Homo sapiens: one gene and its partners. The protein of the gene in region 1 interacts with the protein of each later gene in a biochemical or structural test. Each region holds a gene or a part of one and is shown in the gene's direction. Other genes may lie near its edges.

Region 1 (4,682 bases):
TCACACAGGACCCATTAAAGTTGCGGTATTTAACGTATCTGCCAATACCAGGATGAGCAACAACAGTAACAATCAAACTACTGCCCAGTTTCCCTGGACTAGCCGAGGAGCAGGGCTTTGAGACTCCTGTTGGGACACAGTTGGTCTGCAGTCGGCCCAGGACGGTCTACTCAGCACAACTGACTGCTTCAGTGCTGCTATCAGAAGATGTCTTCTATCTTTTGTGAATGATTGGAACTTTTAAACCTCCCCTCCTCTCCTCCTTTCACCTCTGCACCTAGTTTTTTCCCATTGGTTCCAGACAAAGGTGACTTATAAATATATTTAGTGTTTTGCCAGAATCTCTCTTGCTTTGCCATTAAGCAGAAGAACTAGTTTCCCTGTATAGCCTGCTGGGAGAGACCCACTTCTAGGGTATGGGGGATGCAGCTTCAAGCCCAGTGCCCAGTGTCTCCCTGTTAACTGCAGGAATGCCAAGCACCTGGCCAGAGCAGCCCAGCCCCAATATGCTTAGGAGGAGACAGAGTTCCCTCTGTATAGCCTCTGGGACAAGAAAAAGAAAACACAAGAATGTATACACTGGAAGATTTGGGCCTCCTGCCTGCCTTCTCTTTGTTTCTGTTCCTCTTCCCATCTACTCCCCTACGCCCCTTCAACCTTTTTTCTCTGTCTGCTTCACCTGAGAAGAAAGTGTACGAAGAGAGTGTCCTCCTCTCACATGAGCCAGATCAGCCAGAAAATGCAACACTTGGAAGAGTTAAATGCTGTTCAGTGAAGATTTCAGCCCCAGGCCTTTGCTGCAAGTGACCCTGTGGCAACAGTGGATTCTCAGACATGATACTCTCATCATATTTGCAACTCTTCTCTCTCTTTCTTCCCCACACCCAAGAGGAGGATTGGTGGTAGGGGGCAGGCAGAGGGGGTGGGGAGAAGTTTCCTGGGCTCCATCAATGGCTGCATCTTTTCTGGACTCAGCAGTCTCCTTGATTCCATGTAGAGTGTGGAAAGGAGTTGCTGATTGCATTTCCTCTCATTAACAATTGGGTGTGTAATAAAAAGCATTGTACTTCATCTTAAATCACTGGTAAGGCTCAGCCTACAGAAAGATTTGAAATGGCCAGAGCCAATCGCTTGGTGCATTCTGCGTAATGGTTTCCATCTCCGATTTCCTCATCAGGGCCTGTGAATACCCAGGTGCCTGTATCTTTGCCAAGACCGTGATCAAGGTAGCTTAAGAGAGATGGTCAGGAGAAAACACTGTTTTTGTTTTTTTTGTTGTTTTGTTTTGTTTTGGCCAGTTAAATATCATCTCTCAAATATTGATCTCACCGTGTCAACCTTGCACTGCACAACCTTCCTTCTGCTTCTCCCACACCCAGTATTTGCAGAAGGGCAAAGCTGCTTAAGAGAGAGGATCAGGGTGAAGTTTGGCACACAGGGTTTATTAATGGGGCAAAAACTGCCTTTTCTTCCTCCTCCTGACCTTATTTTGCTCTTCACTCTCCCCAGCCAATAAAGCGTCTGTGGCGATTGGTGAACAGCATAAACAGCTGGACCTCAGCAAGGGTCAGGCAAACCCAGTCACTCGGAAGGCAGCTGTGTGAGCTGCCAAGCTAGTGGGCTTCAGGTGCAAGGGTACCTGTGCCACACCAACCTGGGAGCACACAGAATACTATTAATGTGCACCCAGCTGGTCTCCCCAGGCAAGAAGGTATCCTCTTCCCAAGGTGTACCCACTGAATGTTGTTACTACATATTGAGAGTCATTTTATGCATATGCATTCTACCTTTCCTGCTTTATGAGTATTTTTAAGCTTTTAGTTCAAGGTTATATTCAGAAAATATTTCCCAGTATAATGATACATCGTAGCCTAAGAAATATTTTCTCAATGTAATTCCCTTCCCAGCTACCCAAATGCTACAGAGAAATGTTTTCTACTTGGCCACTATCAGGGTTCGTCATCTATTGTGTTGACTATTAATGGCTTTTTGATTGGGTAAGGATTTTGCTATAGATGAAGGTAGAGGGCTGTCAGCCCTGAAAAACACACAGGTCAGACATTTAAAAGGCATGGGTTTCGAGCTGTCTCAAAATATTGCCCAATAGCCATAATTTTACCAGCCTTTCTGTCATATGCTGCTATTACAAAGTGGAAGCTGTTGAATGTTTATTGGTGCCCAGGGTTTTGCTCTCCAATCTAGGTTCAGTTGAAGGAATATTGTTTCTAAGACTGTTTTGAGACATGTCCAGTACATCACAAAGGAGATCGGGGCGACCCCTGCAGATGTGGAGCCATTAGCCCAGTTGAGGATATTCTCCAAGTTGTCCTCTCTCCTGCTGATGGAAATGGGAATGAAGTTAAGTGGTCTGAAAAACTTGAATCGTTCACATTTCTCAGCTCTGGGGGTCATTTACCAGTTTGTTGTAGAAGAAATAATCAGGTAAGTTAAAAGTTCATTTCCAGAGAAGGTAAACCCCACTTACCATCTCTGCATGATTTCAGTGGGAATTGATTATCACTAATCCCCAACTGGGCTAGAATAAATGTAAAGTTTGACCTTTTTAAAACGAAAAGAGAGACAAAGTCTCAGCACATTCCAAGGAGTGGTAGAAACAGAGCTGAAGGTGTCCCCATTGTAGATTAGTCTCTTCTCACTAAAATTTACTTTCCAACGTAGGGCCTAAAGGAAACCTTTCTTAAAGACAGGCTGAAACCCCTTCAAAGGCAGATGAGGAGGTACAGACACGTGACCTTTTGGTGCACACTGGAGCTACTTGGACAAGACCAGCATGCCTTGCTGCACGTGTGTGTATTTCACTGCTGAGAACATCCTTTAACTTGGTGTGCAATTTGAAAGGATGTGAATCATGGATGGAAGGCCATTTGTACATGTCCCTTGGCAAAATTCTTTCTGGTGTCTCCTAACTTCAGAGACAGGGACTCTTTTTGGATCTCTATTGACAAGTAATAAAAGTCTGGCCCTCATAACTTGTTTCCGAACTAGAAAAGTCTGTGAGACCCCTACATCATTCTGGTTTTTTTGCTTGAGTAAGAACAATCCTTTTTTATTTTTCTTCTGTACAGTCTAAAGCTACAGAGAAAAAAAAATGCACTCTTCCCTTGCCGGCTCCTGGTACCATTGGTCTGAACAGCTGTAGTTGGTCTACTCCTTACTTAGCACTTGATTGTGTGGGGAAACAAAGGTGGGAGGGGTGGGGAATACTGGAAATAATCAGGGCAATTTTTTTCTTTCCCATAATTGGACTAGATACCTTGGTACTGTTGACCTTCTCAGCATCTCCCTTTTGCCTTAGATGGCAACACCCTCCAGTCTGTAGCAGAGCAGTCCAACCCAGATTAGTGCAGCCCGGAGGCTTAGGGTGCAGCCTCCCTGGTCTTCCTCCACACAGTTGTTCACCAACAGACCAGACCTCCTTTAACCACAGTGTCAACATAGTATCGGAAAGAGAGCCATTTCTTAGGGGAATAAAACAGTTTCGCTTCTTTAGCTCATCTGTGGTGTCAGAATCCTTGGAGCTGAAGAGAGAAATCAAAAGAGCATGATGATGGCTGCCTGGTTTCAGGTGGAACTTAATGCATTGATCTTTAGAAGCTCCTTCTGTTGGAAGTTGAGTACCTGTGATCTAAAATGTCCTGGAGGCAGATGACATCTAAAATATGTGCTTTCCAACCAGCACAGCTGGCGCTCTTAGCTCCTGATTGGTTGTGTGTTTTATTAAGGATCAGTGCAGTTAAGTCGTATTTTAAAGTGTTACCTCCCCTCCTAACCCTTCCCCTTCTTGGACACTGAAGGAAAAGGCCAACTAGGGTGTTAGCCCTCTGGGCACCAAGGAAACTAACAGCTTTCTCAAAGCGGTGACCACTCAGGCCAGCCCAGACAAATCTGAGGGATGGCCAGTGCACTCCAATGATGGGACAGGCCTAACAACACATGTAAGCTTCCCCGAGAGCTTTCAGCTGGTTCACCTCTTTGTTCTCTAGACTCTTAAGTACTGACTGCTTTGACTTTTGTGATTATGTTATGGTGATGTGTAGTCAGTGTACCAATATGTTCACAACCTAGGATCATGATAATGGAGTGTGTTTTGGGTTTTTTTTAACTGTTCAGAAAAAAAGTAAATTACAAATATAAGATTAAAGTGAATTTTCTAAGCGTCTTGTCTCCTTGCCCCAGCATCCAGAAGGGCAGTACACTTTTCAGTATACAGACTGAGGGAGTGCAGAGATAGAATACCTTTGCAGATAATCTGACATGAGAAAACAAGATTGAGAGAAAGCAGGGCTGGATGCTGTGGATGAGTGTGGGGTCCCTGGCTTACGCCTACTGTTCCATGTTGAGTTAAATTGAAGCCAAAGTCATGTCTCATTTGTGCATTGGTCACCTTAGCCAACCACAGCCCAACCTGAATGCAGAATTTACATTTTTCTCTGCCCCTCAGCTGTGAAAAGACTTGAGTTTCCCCTACATCCCATTTGATCAGTTTATAGGCAAGCAAGCTCACATCTGGGAGCAATTTCCAGAGGGGCTCCAACAAGCTGTAAGAATGAAGGCACCCTTGACTATCTGGGATATGACATTGCAGTTCTTGAGTGAAACCCCCCTTCCCTCCTTCAGCCAAACCTGGAGAGGTACAAGGTTGCAGGCAGTGGCCGAATGGG
Region 2 (7,033 bases), on another chromosome or scaffold:
CCCAGGAGGCAGAGGTTGCAGTGAGCCCAGGTTGTGTCACGTACTCCAGCCTGTGCAACAGGGCAAGACTCCATCTCAAAAAAAAAAAAAAAATATATATATATATATATATAATATAAAGTAAGTGGCAGAGCTGCAACTCAAGTTCTTGTTTTTCTGCCACTAAGACCAGTGTGCTTTCTCCTGGCCCCTCTGGACCTTGCAGTTGAAAGCCTATGTGCTCTAGTGAGCCGAGACCACCCCCTTGGTGACTGTGTGTGTTCTCTGGCCTACACAGTGAGCCCCAGCAAGGAGATCAAGATCGTGTCTGCAGTGAGGAGAAGCAGCATGAGCAGCTGTGGCAGCAGCGGCTACTTCAGCAGCAGCCCCACCCTCAGCAGCAGCCCCCCTGTGCTCTGCAACCCCAAGTCCGGTGAGTGCCCAAAAGGTGGCCCCGCTCCTAAGACTGTGGGGACTTGGGCAGGTCCCTGGGAAGCAGAATCTGAGATAGCGGGAGACTAGTGTGTGGGTTCTAATAAGTTAGAGCATGCTCTTGGGGTCCACACGTGTTGAATGGAAGGGAAGGAAGAATTGGGCTGAAGGAGAAATTGGGTTGTAGCCCAGTCTCAATGAAGGCTATCATTGACCCAGTAAGACCTCTGGAGCTGGGATGGCCCTTCCAAGTTGCCTGGAGTTGTGTTGAGGGGGCTGGGCCTTTAGATCCACATGTTGGCCACTTATTAGGTATTGGCTGCCCCTGGGAGGAGGGCATGACCTTGGGCAAAGCAGGTGTCTTCAGAGAGATGGTCTCCAAGACAGCTGAGGGCTGTCACCATTAGCACTCTCGGAGCTGGGAGAAGTCCCTGAGCCCTGAAGGGTGTTTTGGGCAGTATGTGACAGTGCTCACAGCAGGGGAAACAGCACTTCCCCAGAATGCAGCCGATGCATAAGATCTGTTGGGGCCCAACACCCTTAAGGAAGAAGCATGGATGTGTGCAAACCCAGCTATCCCTGGAATTGACCCTGGGTGTCTTGTGGTTTCAAAATCTGCTCATCAACCTCCATGGCCTTTATATTCCAGGAAAAAAATCTAGGCACAAAATTGTTGGTGAACATGTACTTAGAAACAATCCTTCCTCCACCCAATCAGTTCATCAACCACCCAGGAACTGGTAATCCATTGAAACTACCCTTTCTCACCATCCCTTACCCACCTAATGTCCTCACTTGCCAGGATGAGGATGTGTGGTCCATCACTACAGTAACCGCCAGAGAACACTCTCAAACCCATTTGTTTAAGGCACTGTCCACCCCCAGTTCAGTTTGTCACCTTCGAGGAAGAGGCTCTGTTCCTTTTGTTCATGTTGTTTCCTCATCATCAGATCTTGGGGATACAAAGATGACAGGTCATAACCCCCAACTCAATGAAAACACCACCTCTTTGGAGAAAAAAACAAAACATTTCATGTTAGTAAGAATAAGCACTAATTGATGCAGTTCAAAAGGCTTTGAGAGAAAACTCTGTCATCTAATGGTATTATCTAGGAAGGTGGCTCTTTTTCCTGATCTAACTTTTTTTCTTTTTTTGCTGCCTTCTGGAGTGTTAGCAGCAGGAATAAATGTAACCTGTAAGTGAATGAAGAAGCTTGCTTCCATACTGTCCTGGCTGAAGAGTCGTTGAGTACTGGGTTTTTCAATTACTGGAGCTTGCTGCTAAAGTAGAATGAAAAAGGAGAACTGAATTCTTAGAAATGGGATGTTTGAAGCCTTTGTAGAAATCTGACAGGCATCCTCAAAGTTAAAAGCAAAAGATCTCAGTTTCAATAAAAGGGTCAGTGGTGCCATAACCATTTTACAAGTTTTTGATTGCTTATGATGGAGTATGAAAAAAGTGTTAATTACTGAAATTAGCAACAAAATCCATGTTCCCTGAGGTAGGTTAGCATGTTTCCTCTTTCTCCTTGCCTCTGGGTCAAAGGGAAGAGTTTACTGTTATGCAGGCAGAAGAAAAAGGTCTCGTTTCCTTTCGTGGGTCCCCAAGGACAAGAGCTGTCAGGACTGAGTTGTGGTTTGTAAATTCCACTTCTTACCCATAGTTTGACAAGCTTCTCTCTCACTCTTAAGAGGATTCCCAAGACCCAGTGAGTTCATCTGTGATTTTTTTTTCTCAAGCAGATGATCAGGCCTTCACAGTGATGCATTTAAAAATTAATTATCTGAAATACACCAGGATATGTTTTTTTAGTACTGTATATAAATGCCCTAAGCCAGACACAAAAAACAGTACTAAAGATATTGATGTTATCAGTATCATTGTGATAAGCAAATAAGCTTCCAAGGATATGAAAAGAAAAAAGTTTTCCCTAGGCCTCAAAGTTTCTATATTTTTCAACATAATAAAGAGAAGTGCATTAAAATGAATGGTCAGCTCTGCTGCCAAATAGTACAGTGTGATTCATGTATCCAAATTCATAAGCCCCCTGAGGGTTTATGGGGAGTGGAGAGAGAGTTACCTGACAGGGAATAAAAAAGATCTCAGTCCTCAAATACTGACCACTTTTCTTACCTCCCATCCATCTGCTGAGAGATTCTGTTTCCATCTTGATATTTGACCTACTCCCTCTTGTTTGGCGAACATAAATTAATTTTTGCTTTTATGAGATTTCTGAAAGCAAAGGTGATAAGATCAGCAACCTGTCACCTCAACAAGAAGCACTGGATTGCCTTTCACTGAGAGGGTGCTTCTCAGGCCAGAAGGCCGTTCATGTAACCAGTGGGCGAGGTCCAGCTGCCTGGTAGATCATCACGCCTTGCCCCACGCTGCCTTTCCTTGTCTGCTGCACACTCTTTCCAGGACTGGTACCTGGCCTCTGACTGTCACTAGCAAAGGGGATCGGAGGATGCCACCTCACCAGGTTAGGCCCCTTGGCTGGGGCCTTTTCTGTTTCTCTGTGGCACTTCAAGTTCACAATGTCTGCAGAGCTGGATTAGAATGGTCTCTGTCCCCTGACCCCCTGGCTACTTGGGGAGGATACGACAGCCCCTCTCCAGTTCTTAGTGAGCACAGGATGGATGGGGGGGTTCATTATCGGTGGGTTTTAGGCAGCCGCAAGTCAGGAATTGGCTGCTGTCTGCCATCTTGGTGGGCAACAGCAGTGAGCTGATGTGAACGGGTGTCTCAGGAGGACAGCATGCCACTATCTTCCTGAGCTTCTAGACCCTTTCTTTTGCTTGCAGGACAGCATGGCCCAGAGTAAATGTGGCACAGTAGCTGAGAGTGTGGGTGCTGGTGTCTAATGCCTGAGTTTGATTCTACTTCTGCCACCCATTCGCTCTGGGACCTTGGACACAATCAATTTAACTTTTCTAAGGTTGTTTTTGCAGTTATAAAATGGGGATAACAATGATCCTAACTCATTCATTCTTGTGATGATTAAGTGAGTTAATATATTCACCTCACATGGTGCCTCTCTAGCATATGTTGAGTACTCAGAAAAGTTCACTAGCATTATTACTCATGGCAGAAAGCAGTGGGTACATGCAGTCCTAGGTGTTAAGAAGGAAGTGAGGCTGGGCGGCTCATGCGTGTAATCCCAGCACTTTGGGAGGCTGAGGCAGGCAGATTGCCTGAGGTCACGAGTTCAAGACCAGCCTGGCCAACATGGTGAAACCCTGTCTCTATTAAAAATACAAAAATTAGCCAGATATGGTGTTGGGTGCCTGTAATCCCAGCTACTCAGGAGGCTGAGGCAGGAGAATTGCTTGAACCCAGGAGGCGGAGGTTGCAGTGAGCCGAGATCGCATCATTGCACTCCATCCTGGGTGACAAGGGCAAAACTCCGTCTTTAAAAAAAAAAAAAAATTGACCTGCCCCCTTATCCCCACCCCTGGCACTCTTGCTTTCCTTCTCTTTCTTTTTTTCCTTAGCTTTGTAAGGTAGGTTTAGGGTTATTTATGTTTGCTGCTATTTACTGTCTCCATTCAGCTAAAATATAAACTGTGAGGCAGGGATCTTTGCCACTTTTTCTCACTGATGGTCACCTACGAGATATCAATAAATAGCTGCTGAATGCATGGATAGAGGACTTGGAAGTGCTTATGTCTTGACATTGTGTTTGTCTGCCAGTGCTGAAGAGACCTGTCACCTCTGAGGAACTCCTTACTCCCGGGGCTCCGTATGCAAGGAAGACATTCACGGTAGGCTGATGGTCTGGCCTTTTTCTCCCGTGCTGCCCATTTTTCTGCACCGTGTCCATGTGTCAATGGGTAGCTTATAGACTGAAATGAAAACTACTTTTCTAATTTTCTTTTTGTTTTTAGCGTAATTATGATACTAGGCTTTCTTGACCTCAAGGCACTAAGGTGCATTAGGACTTCACATGCGTTATTATTAATATACCATTTAAAAATTTTTTGATGTGTTCTTTGTTAAAGAAAAGATTTCCATTATGCATTTATTCTAATTTAATTGCAAATTTCAAGATTGGCATCATTTGCACTTGCATTTACCTTAAAATCTAATAATTTTAGATTTTATTTCCCACCATTAGTCATTTAAATTATTATTAGATTTTATGGCAAATGGAAGTGCAAATGATGCCAATAATCCCTTCTGCATTAGGATTAATTCTAGAAATTATTTAAAACATTAGGGGAGTGTTAAGCTAGAGAAAGGAAACTGTGGGATAAACTTTTCTACCGTAGGCAGGGTGCTTCGACAATGTGTGCATGCCTTGAGGTACACGAGCCTCTGACTTGCTGTGAGCAGCTCCGGACCACCTGCCCCTTCTTGGAGGTCCTTTAGGTTCCTAATGCCTACGTTGGATTTCTTCAAATGGAATGAAAGTGCTCTTTTCAGCATCACCGCACCCACTCCCCTTCCTGTGTCTCCTTCTGTCAATCTCCTCAAATTCACGTTCATACCCTCTTCAAAACACTTCTCCTCCTTCATCTTCTAACTTTAGTGGCATTGCCTCAGGCTGGGGGAGAATTCTATCCACACTCAGTCATGCTGCAAACATTTGCTGAGGGCTATTTCACATTCTGAATGCTGAGGAGTTAATAGGAGAAAGGCGCTGACAACATGTCTGTACCAGAGGAAAAGATAAACTCCACCTTCGGAAGTGAAATTGAGTATAATATACAAATAACAGCAAACTGTAAAGTAACGGAAGTGCCTGAAAATCTTGAGCATTTCCACAAAAATTTTCATTTGCCTCCCTGTTTTTCCTCAGTCTCCAGCATTCAAGAGAGGTAGATTGTTATTTTGAAAGTATTTATTTTTGATTTTTAATTTAAATGCCAACATTGTTAGTAATTGATTGTGAATGTGTTTCAGCTGTGTTTTGGTTGGGATATGTGTGAAAGATGTGGCTAGGAGCTGTCCAGGGAATTAAACTGCCAGCTCTAATAATGATTTCTATAGAAAAGGCCTTCTCTAATTCCAAACAACTTTTGGATTAGAGTCTACTTGTACATTGTGAACTTTATGTACTTTTTCACTTCTTTTCCCCCCTTGGTGGAGAAAGGGGCATGGTGGAGCCCTTGGTGGAGGGCTCCCTTGGTGGAGGCTGGGCATGGTGGCTCACGCCTGTAATCCCAGCACTTTGGAGGCTGAGGCAGGTGGATCACCTGAGCTCAGGAGTTCGAGACCAGCCTGACCATCATGGTGAAACCCTGTCTCTACTAAAAATACACAAAATTAGCCAGGCATGGTGTTGCATGCCTGTAATCCCAGTTACTCAGGAGGCTGAGGCAGGAGAATCGCTTGAACCCGGGAGGTGGGGTTGCAGTGAGCTGAGATTGCACTACTGCACTCCAGCCTGGGTGACAGAGCAAGACTCTGTCTCAAAAAAAAAAAAAAAAAAGCCAGGTCTCTTTATTTCCCACCATTAGTAATTTCAATAATTATGCTAGACTTCAATGACGTTGCAGGATCAAGAGTGTATCATTTGGATACTGGGGAAAAGAACAAACTTAGAGCAGAAATTGTATCTGGAGAGACATTTCAACCACGTTACGACTTTTTCTAAACCTTCTATTGGAGTCTGACATTAAATTGTATAACAGCCTAAGAAAGAGAAAATCTTCCAGTTGTTTATTGAATCATGCCCTCATGGGAGCATCTTCTTTCTGCCAAACAGGTTAGATTTTTTTTACCACCTTTTCTACAGGGAGATGCCCGGGTTTGTGATAGAAGCAGTGTTCCAATCCCCTGGCAGGGAAGAGAGAAACGGAGGAAAATATGTCACAGTGTATACTTAATCCTGGGCTGGTTTTCTCTCCCTCAGAAGAATAAGCAAATTGCCGGAGACAGTCGGCTGCTTGCTAATTGTGGTTTTCCTCTCTAGATTGTTGGTGACGCGGTTGGCTGGGGTTTTGTGGTGCGAGGAAGTAAGCCATGCCACATCCAGGCTGTAGACCCCAGTGGCCCTGCAGCCGCAGCAGGAATGAAGGTACTAACGGGTCTTTCTCACCCTCTTTTATATCTGTCTTGGGTTCTTCATGCTAAATTGGCCATGATTCTTACTAGGGATCCAAACCCATCTTATTTTGTGTCCTTTTCTATTTCTGCCCTCTCTTTCTTGTTCTCCAAAGTCTTTAACCTTTCCCTGGGTCTTCCCTCTCCTCTAATAAACATTTAGAAGTGTCTAGCCAGGCGCGGTGGCTCACACCTGTAATTCCAGCACATTCAGAGGCCAAGGCAGACATATCACTTGAGGTCAGGAGTTCAAGACTAGCCTGGCCACCGTGGCGAAACCCTATCCCTACTAAAAATACAAAAATTAGCCGGGCGTGGTGGCACACACCTGTAATCCCAGCTACTCAGGAGGCTGAGGCAGGAGAATCGCTTGAACCCAGGAGGCAGAAGTTGTAGTGAGCCAAGATCGCACCACTGCACTCCAGCCTGGGTGACAAAGCGAGACTCTGTCTCTAAAACAAAACAAAACAAAACAACAACAACAACAACAAAACAACATTTAGCAGTGTCTAAATACCTCTAGCTTAATTTCATTATTTGGTGCCATGTGTACTTTTTCTCCCTAAGCGTTTT
Region 3 (7,033 bases), on another chromosome or scaffold:
AGGGTGCAGTGAACTTGCACATGGAAGAAGAGGTTGAAGACTTCTTATTGAAGAAGCCCATTGTACCTACTGATGGCAAGCGTGTCATTGTTGTGTTTCACTGCGAGTTTTCTTCTGAGAGAGGTCCCCGCATGTGAGTGCTGCACGGAACTGGGTTCTGGGGCACAGGCTCCATGATGCTTTTGTGGGACATGGTGGTTTGTGGCTTGCACTTGGAGCATATTTTAGCATATCAAGCAACCTCTGGCACATAACAAGCCATTTTCATATGTAATTTTATCCTGAGGTGAACTTTGGCTCTTCCAGTCTCCCCGACTGTCCTTAGTCTGATCTGTGGGGCTACTGTTCTCATGTGACCTCCTTCAAGTACAAAGTGACCGTTCCTTATGCAAATGCCAGAAAAGTGTGAAGTTCTCATTCTGTAAAACCTCATATGATATGATGCTTTGAAACACTTGATATTATTACCAATTTCAGGGTGAAAAGAAAAAAGGGGGCCAAAGAGCTGCCCATCAGTCATCTGTGTCCATTCTAAAAGGATTGCAAGCCTGCTGTTTGTCAGGCACTGACAATAAAAATGTAACTACAGTAAAACACAGTACAGTAAAAATACCACAGCGAGCAGGACCAACAAGGACCCTACTGCAGCAGAGATCCAAGTGGGGATCCGTATAAATGCTAGGAGGACAGGCAGAGAGGTAGGACAGAGAGTGCAGCTTAACTAGGATGGTCCAAGGGAGACTTCTGCAGGACCACGTTCTTATGCCACCTTTTTATTTTGAACCAATTTATTTTAAAAAACATTTTTAAATTAAAAAATTTCAATTTTTTTTTTTTGACGGAGTTTTGCTCTTGTTGCCCAGGCTGGAGTGCAGTGGCACAATCTCTTCTCACTGCAACCTCTGCCTCCCAGGTTCAAGCAGTTCTCCTGCCTCAGCCTCCCAAGTAGCTGGGATTACAGGCATGCGCCATCACGCCCGGCTAATTTTGTATTTTTAGTAGAGGCAGGGTTTCTACATGTTGGTCAGGCTGGTCTTGAACTCCCGACCTTAGGTGATCCGCCTGCCTCAGCCTCCCAAAGTAGTGGGATTACAGGCGTGAGCCACTGCACCTGGCTTTTTCTTTCTTTCTTTCTTTCTTTTTTTTTTTTTTTTTTGAGGCGGAGGCACACTGTTTTCACCCAGACTGGAATGCAGTGGCATGATCTCGGCTCACTGCAACCTCCACCTCCTGGGTTCAAGCGATTCTCCTGCCTCAGCCTCCTGAGTAGCTGGGATAACAGGCGTGCACCACCACACCCGGCTAATTTTTGTATTTGTAGTAGAGATGGGGGTTTCACCATGTTGGCCGGGCTGGTCTTGAACTCCTGACCTCAGGTGATCCACCCGCCTTGACCTCCCAAAGTGCTGGGATTACAGGTGTGAGCCACCACGCCCAGCAGAAATTTCAAATTTTGAGATGGGGTCTTAATATATTGGCCAGGTTGGTCTCAAACTCCTGGCCTCAAGCAATCCTCTCTCCTTGGCCTCCAAAGTGCTAGGATTGCAGGCATGAGCCACTGTGCCCACCCCTTTGAACCTTTTTTTTTTTTTGAGACGGAGTCTCGCTCTGTCACCCAGGCTGGAGTGCAGTGGCACAATCTCGACTTACTGCAAGCTCCGCCTCCTGGGTTCATGCCATTCTCCTGCCTCAGCCTCCCGAGTAGCTGGGACTACAGGTGCCCACCATCACGCCTGGCTAATTTTTTTGTATTTTTAGTAGAGACAGGGTTTCACCATTTTAGCCAGGATGGTCTCCATCTCCTGACCTTGCGATCTGCCCGTCTCGGCCTCCCAAAGTGCTTGGATTACAGGCGTGAGCCACTGCGCCTGACCTGAACCATTTTAAAGCTCAAGAAGAGGTGAGGTTATGGCTGGGCACAGTGGCACCTGTAATCCCAACACTTTGGGAGGCCGAGGCAGGAGGATCACTTGCTCGGGAGTTTCAGACCAGACCAACCTGGGTAACACAGTGGGACCACACCTCTACAAAAAATAGGAGGTGGGAGGATCGTTTGAGCCCAGCAGGTCGAGGCTGTGGTGAGCCATGATCATGCCACTGTACTCCAGCCTAGGTGACAGAGTGAGATTCTGTCTCTCTCTCACACACACACACACACACACACACACACACAAAGGTTATACTTGCACACACTTCACCTGATTTTATTAATTTTTAACATTTTGTCACATTTGTATGTACATGCTCTACACACAGGCAACTACAGTACAACTTGACACTTTTGACTGTCATCTCATAAGTCCTTCAAACATCTGTCTCCAAAGGATGCTCATTCATGAATGGAATTATTCACTCAGCAGTTTTTTTGTTTGTTTGTTTGAGATGTAGTCTTGCTCTGCCACCCAGACTGGAGTGCAGTGGTGCGATCTCGGATCACTGCAACCTCCACCTCCCGGGTTCAAGCAATTCTCCTGCCTCAGGCTCCCAAGTAGCTGGGACTACGGGTGCATGCCACCATGCCAAGCTAATGTTTGTATTTTTAGTAGAGACGGGGTTTTGCTACATTGGCCAGGCTGGTCTCGAACTCCTGACCTCAAGTGATCTACCCGCCTCAGCCTCCCAAAGTGCTGGGATTATAGGCCTGAAACAAACTAATCTGGACACACATACACACACATGTAAATTGTTTTTAAACCCACAAAAGATGCTGCTCTCTTTTTTTTTTATTTTTGAGTCAGGGTCAGTCTCTGTTGTCCAGGCTGGAGTACAGTGGCAGGAGCACAGCTCACTGTAGCCTCTGCCTCCCAGGCTCAAGTGATTCTCCCACCTCAGCCTCCCAGGAAGCTAGGACCACAAACATGCATCACCATGCCTGGCTAATTTTTGTATTTTTTATAGAGACAGGGTCTCACTGTGTTGCCCAGGCTGGTCTCAAACTCCTGGGCTCAGGCAATCCTGGCCTCCCAAAGTGCTTGGATTACAGGTGTGAGCCGCCATGCCCAGCCCAAAAGATGCTATTCTCTTAATCTCTCATTTCCCCATCTTCCTCTTTAACACCTCTAATATAAAGGACATTATTATACCATATTGAAACTTCACCTAGATATACAGAAAACGCCCCATCTCTGTATTCTGTATTTGCAAGCTGCATGTTTATATCACCATCTACAGATACCCCTTACACTTCGTTCCCCACTTGAGTTTCGCCATCACTGGCTTTCTGTTGTTCCACTGGGGAAAGATTTGGGATTCACAGGTGAACTCTTTTTTTTTTTTTTTTTTTTTTTTGAGTTGGAATCTCGCCCTTTCGCCCAGGCTGGAATGCAGTGGCACAATCTCGGCTCACTGCAGCCTCCTCCTCCCGGGTTCAAGCATTTCTCTGCCTCAGCCTCCCAAGTAGCTGGGATTACAGGCACCTGCCACCACGCCCAGCTAATTTTTTGTAGTTTTAGTAGACACAGGGTTTCACTATCTTGGCCAGGCTGGTCTCGAACTCCTGACCTCGTGATCCACCGCCTCAGCCTCCCAAAGTGCTGGAATTACAGGTGTGAGCCACCGCGCCCAGCCAAACTCCTTTTAACCACAGGCAAATGGTTTAAGCTACGTGCTGCAGAGGAAGCTGCTGCCCATCCCTCATGAGCAGCTAACAAAGGCCCCAAACCACTGAGCTTCAAGAGAAAATCAGCAGATACTCTTGGCTCTTGTGTACCAGATACCTTTCTAGATACTGAGGGAGAAGAGCAGTGAACAAAACAGACCAAAAAATCTCTGCCTTCATGGAACTTACATTTCGGAGTGGACAGGAGATCGAGACCAGCCTGGCCAACATGGTGAAATCCCGTCTCTACTAAAAATACAAAAATTAGCCAGGCGTGGTGGCGGACACCTGTAATCCCAGCTACTTTGGAGGCTGAGGCAGGAGCATCCCTTGAACCCAGGAGGCAGAGGTTGCAGTGAGCCGAGATCGCGCCAGTGCACTCCAGCCTGGGCGACAGAGTGAGACTCCATCTCAAAAAAAAAAAAAAAAAGGTGACTGGGTGCGGTGGCTAACTCCTGTAATCCCAACACTTTGGGAGGCCAAGGCAGGTGGATCACAAGGTCAAGAGGTCGAGACCATCCTGGCCAACATGGTGAAGCCCCATCTCTACTAAACATACAAAAATCAGCTGGGCGGTGGCACGCGCCTGTAGTCCCAGCTATTTGGGAGGCTGAGGCAGGAGAATTGCTTGAACCCGGGAGACGGAGATTGCAGTGAGCCTGAGGTCACGCCCTTGCACTCCAGCCTGGTGACAGAGTGAGATTCTGTCTCAGAAAAAAGAAGGTGCTTCAGAGGAAAATAAGGCCAGTGGTGGAGCTCCCAGGCAGGCTGGAGGAACAGTAGTGGGGCTGCAGGGGCTGGCGTGGGGTGAACAAGGGGCAGAGCAGCAGTAGGGGCCTGTAGAGCTGTAGGCCTCTGAAGGACTTGGGGCCTCGGGCTTTTTCACCAAGGGCGAGGCAGTAAGCAGCCATTGGCTGGATATTGAAGACCATTCAGTCCAAGTAGAGGATAGAAACAGGGCCCCGAGGCAGGAGCAAGTTCAGCCTCTTTAAAAGCCACAGAAAGAAACAAGCCCACTTATGTAGAAGGAGGTGAGTGAGGGAGCCTGGCTGAAGAGAAGGCTGGGGTGGAGAAAGCAAGGGGAAGCTGGCTCATATAGTGAAAACTTGCCACAAACTGTGGTGGTGAAGGTGCTGGGCAGGACTCAGATGCTAGGATTGTTGGAGAAAGGAAAATTGGGGAAGAGACCATCTACTGGCACTGGCTGTGAGTGCTGCTCATGTGGCCAGGAACTTGCAACTCAGCACTGATTGTTTCTAAGAATAAATGTCAAGTTGGGAAGATGTGTATAAGGGGGACTTAGACCACAACTGCTGCTTTGACTGCGTTGCCTTGTTGCTGTGCTGGAAAAGCTAACCCTGCTTTGGCCTTCCTTCCCCTGACTAGGTGCCGGTATGTGAGAGAGAGAGATCGCCTGGGTAATGAATACCCCAAACTCCACTACCCTGAGCTGTATGTCCTGAAGGGGGGATACAAGGAGTTCTTTATGAAATGCCAGGTAAGACTGGGGTTGTGGAGAGCATCTCTCCTCCCCTGCCCCCAGTGGTAGACTAATGGATCTGTCTGGTGGTCATGACTTTCTTTCCAGGGGTCGGGGGACAAGGTGGGTATCTGCTGAACCCAAAGAAAGCCCCTGTAGAACTGGCTCCCTAGGTCTGCCTGGCCGCTTTCAGCCTTGTAGCCCTAGGCAGAGAGGAAACCAGGTTGTGGGTGTGAGGCAGGTGTACCCTAACCTTATTCTCTCCTGTCCCCTCAGTCTTACTGTGAGCCCCCTAGCTACCGGCCCATGCACCACGAGGACTTTAAAGAAGACCTGAAGAAGTTCCGCACCAAGAGCCGGACCTGGGCAGGGGAGAAGAGCAAGAGGGAGATGTACAGTCGTCTGAAGAAGCTCTGAGGGCGGCAGGACCAGCCAGCAGCAGCCCAAGCTTCCCTCCATCCCCCTTTACCCTCTTTGCTGCAGAGAAACTTAAGCAAAGGGGACAGCTGTGTGACATTTGGAGAGGGGGCCTGGGACTTCCATGCCTTAAACCTACCTCCCACACTCCCAAGGTTGGAGCCCAGGGCATCTTGCTGGCTACGCCTCTTCTGTCCCTGTTAGACGTCCTCCGTCCATATCAGAACTGTGCCACAATGCAGTTCTGAGCACCGTGTCAAGCTGCTCTGAGCCACAGTGGGATGAACCAGCCGGGGCCTTATCGGGCTCCAGCCATCTCATGAGGGGAGAGGAGACGGAGGGGAGTAGAGAAGTTACACAGAAATGCTGCTGGCCAAATAGCAAAGACAACCTGGGAAGGAAAGGTCTTTGTGGGATAATCCATATGTTTAATTTATTCAACTTCATCAATCACTTTATTTTATTTTTTTTTCTAACTCCTGGAGACTTATTTTACTGCTTCATTAGGTTGAAATACTGCCATTCTAGGTAGGGTTTTATTATCCCAGGGACTACCTCGGCTTTTAATTTAAAAAAAAAAAAGAAGTGGGTAAGAAAATGCAAACCTGTTATAAGTTATCGGACAGAAAGCTAGGTGCTCTGTCACCCCCAGGAGGCGCTGTGGTACTGGGGCTGCTGCTATTTAAGCCAAGAACTGAGGTCCTGGTGAGAGCGTTGGACCCAGGCTTGGCTGCCTGACATAAGCTAAATCTCCCAGACCCACCACTGGCTACCGATATCTATTTGGTGGGAGGTGTGGCCCTGTTCTTCCTCACCCCAGTTCCATGACATTGGCTGGTATAGGAGCCACAGTCAGGAAAGCACTTGAGGCAGCATCTGTTGGGCCACCCCCGGCTCAGTGCTGGAATGTTGCAGTGTAGGTTTCCCAGGGAAGGGGGGTGGGGGTAGGTGGGCTCCACAGGATGGGGGAGGAGCATGTCCACTGAGTATCTTCCTTATGTTGCTGTGATATTGATAGCTTTTATTTTCTAATTTTTAAAAAATGGTCATATTATGAGTCAAAGAGTATCAAATCAGTGTTGGATGGACCACCCAAGGGTGAGGAGAGGGGCTGGAAGCCCTGGGCATTAGGAGAAGGGAGTGGGTGCTGGCATGGACATGACTGGATAGAATTTTCTCAGGAGGGAGCTTGGTGGATTTTGAAGGTAAAACTTTCTGGGTTTATCATGTTTTAATTTTAGAGACAGGGAGTGATGAATCATCACCGGTTGTCCCCTTATCTAACTCCATAAAAGTGGGAATTTCAAAAGAACACCTCATCCAAGGAGCTGGGGCAGACTTCATTGATTCTAGAGAGACCTGTTTCAGTGCCTACTCATCCCTGCCCTCTGGTGCCAGCCTCCTTACCATCACGGCTTCACTGAGGTGTAGGTGGGTTTTTCTTAAACAGGAGACAGTCTCTCCCCTCTTACCTCAACTTCTTGGGGTGGGAATCAGTGATACTGGAGATGGCTAGTTGCTGTGTTACGGGTTTGAGT

The links. The genes of interacting proteins can lie anywhere in the genome.
Region 2: of the proteins of BTRC (region 1) and DEPTOR, one has a biochemical effect on the other in vitro, tested with the Homo sapiens proteins (3 studies listed by BioGRID, with this or other methods).
Region 3: of the proteins of BTRC (region 1) and CDC25A, one has a biochemical effect on the other in vitro, tested with the Homo sapiens proteins (3 studies listed by BioGRID and IntAct, with this or other methods).

The regions. Positions count from the first base shown.
Region 1 is NC_000010.11:101,553,147-101,557,828, forward strand, and holds the end of BTRC (F-box/WD repeat-containing protein 1A), read left to right. Parts: intron 1-8; 3' UTR 9-4,167; downstream 4,168-4,682. UniProt on the Homo sapiens protein: Substrate recognition component of a SCF (SKP1-CUL1-F-box protein) E3 ubiquitin-protein ligase complex which mediates the ubiquitination and subsequent proteasomal degradation of target proteins. Recognizes and binds to phosphorylated target proteins.
Region 2 is NC_000008.11:120,002,700-120,009,732, forward strand, and holds part of DEPTOR (DEP domain-containing mTOR-interacting protein), read left to right. Parts: intron 1-277; coding exon 278-412; intron 413-4,105; coding exon 4,106-4,176; intron 4,177-6,329; coding exon 6,330-6,434; intron 6,435-7,033. UniProt on the Homo sapiens protein: Negative regulator of the mTORC1 and mTORC2 complexes: inhibits the protein kinase activity of MTOR, thereby inactivating both complexes. DEPTOR inhibits mTORC1 and mTORC2 to induce autophagy.
Region 3 is NC_000003.12:48,157,407-48,164,439, reverse strand, and holds part of CDC25A (M-phase inducer phosphatase 1), read left to right. Parts: intron 1-2; coding exon 3-133; intron 134-4,984; coding exon 4,985-5,096; intron 5,097-5,354; coding exon 5,355-5,495; 3' UTR 5,496-7,033. UniProt on the Homo sapiens protein: Tyrosine protein phosphatase which functions as a dosage-dependent inducer of mitotic progression. Directly dephosphorylates CDK1 and stimulates its kinase activity. Also dephosphorylates CDK2 in complex with cyclin-E, in vitro.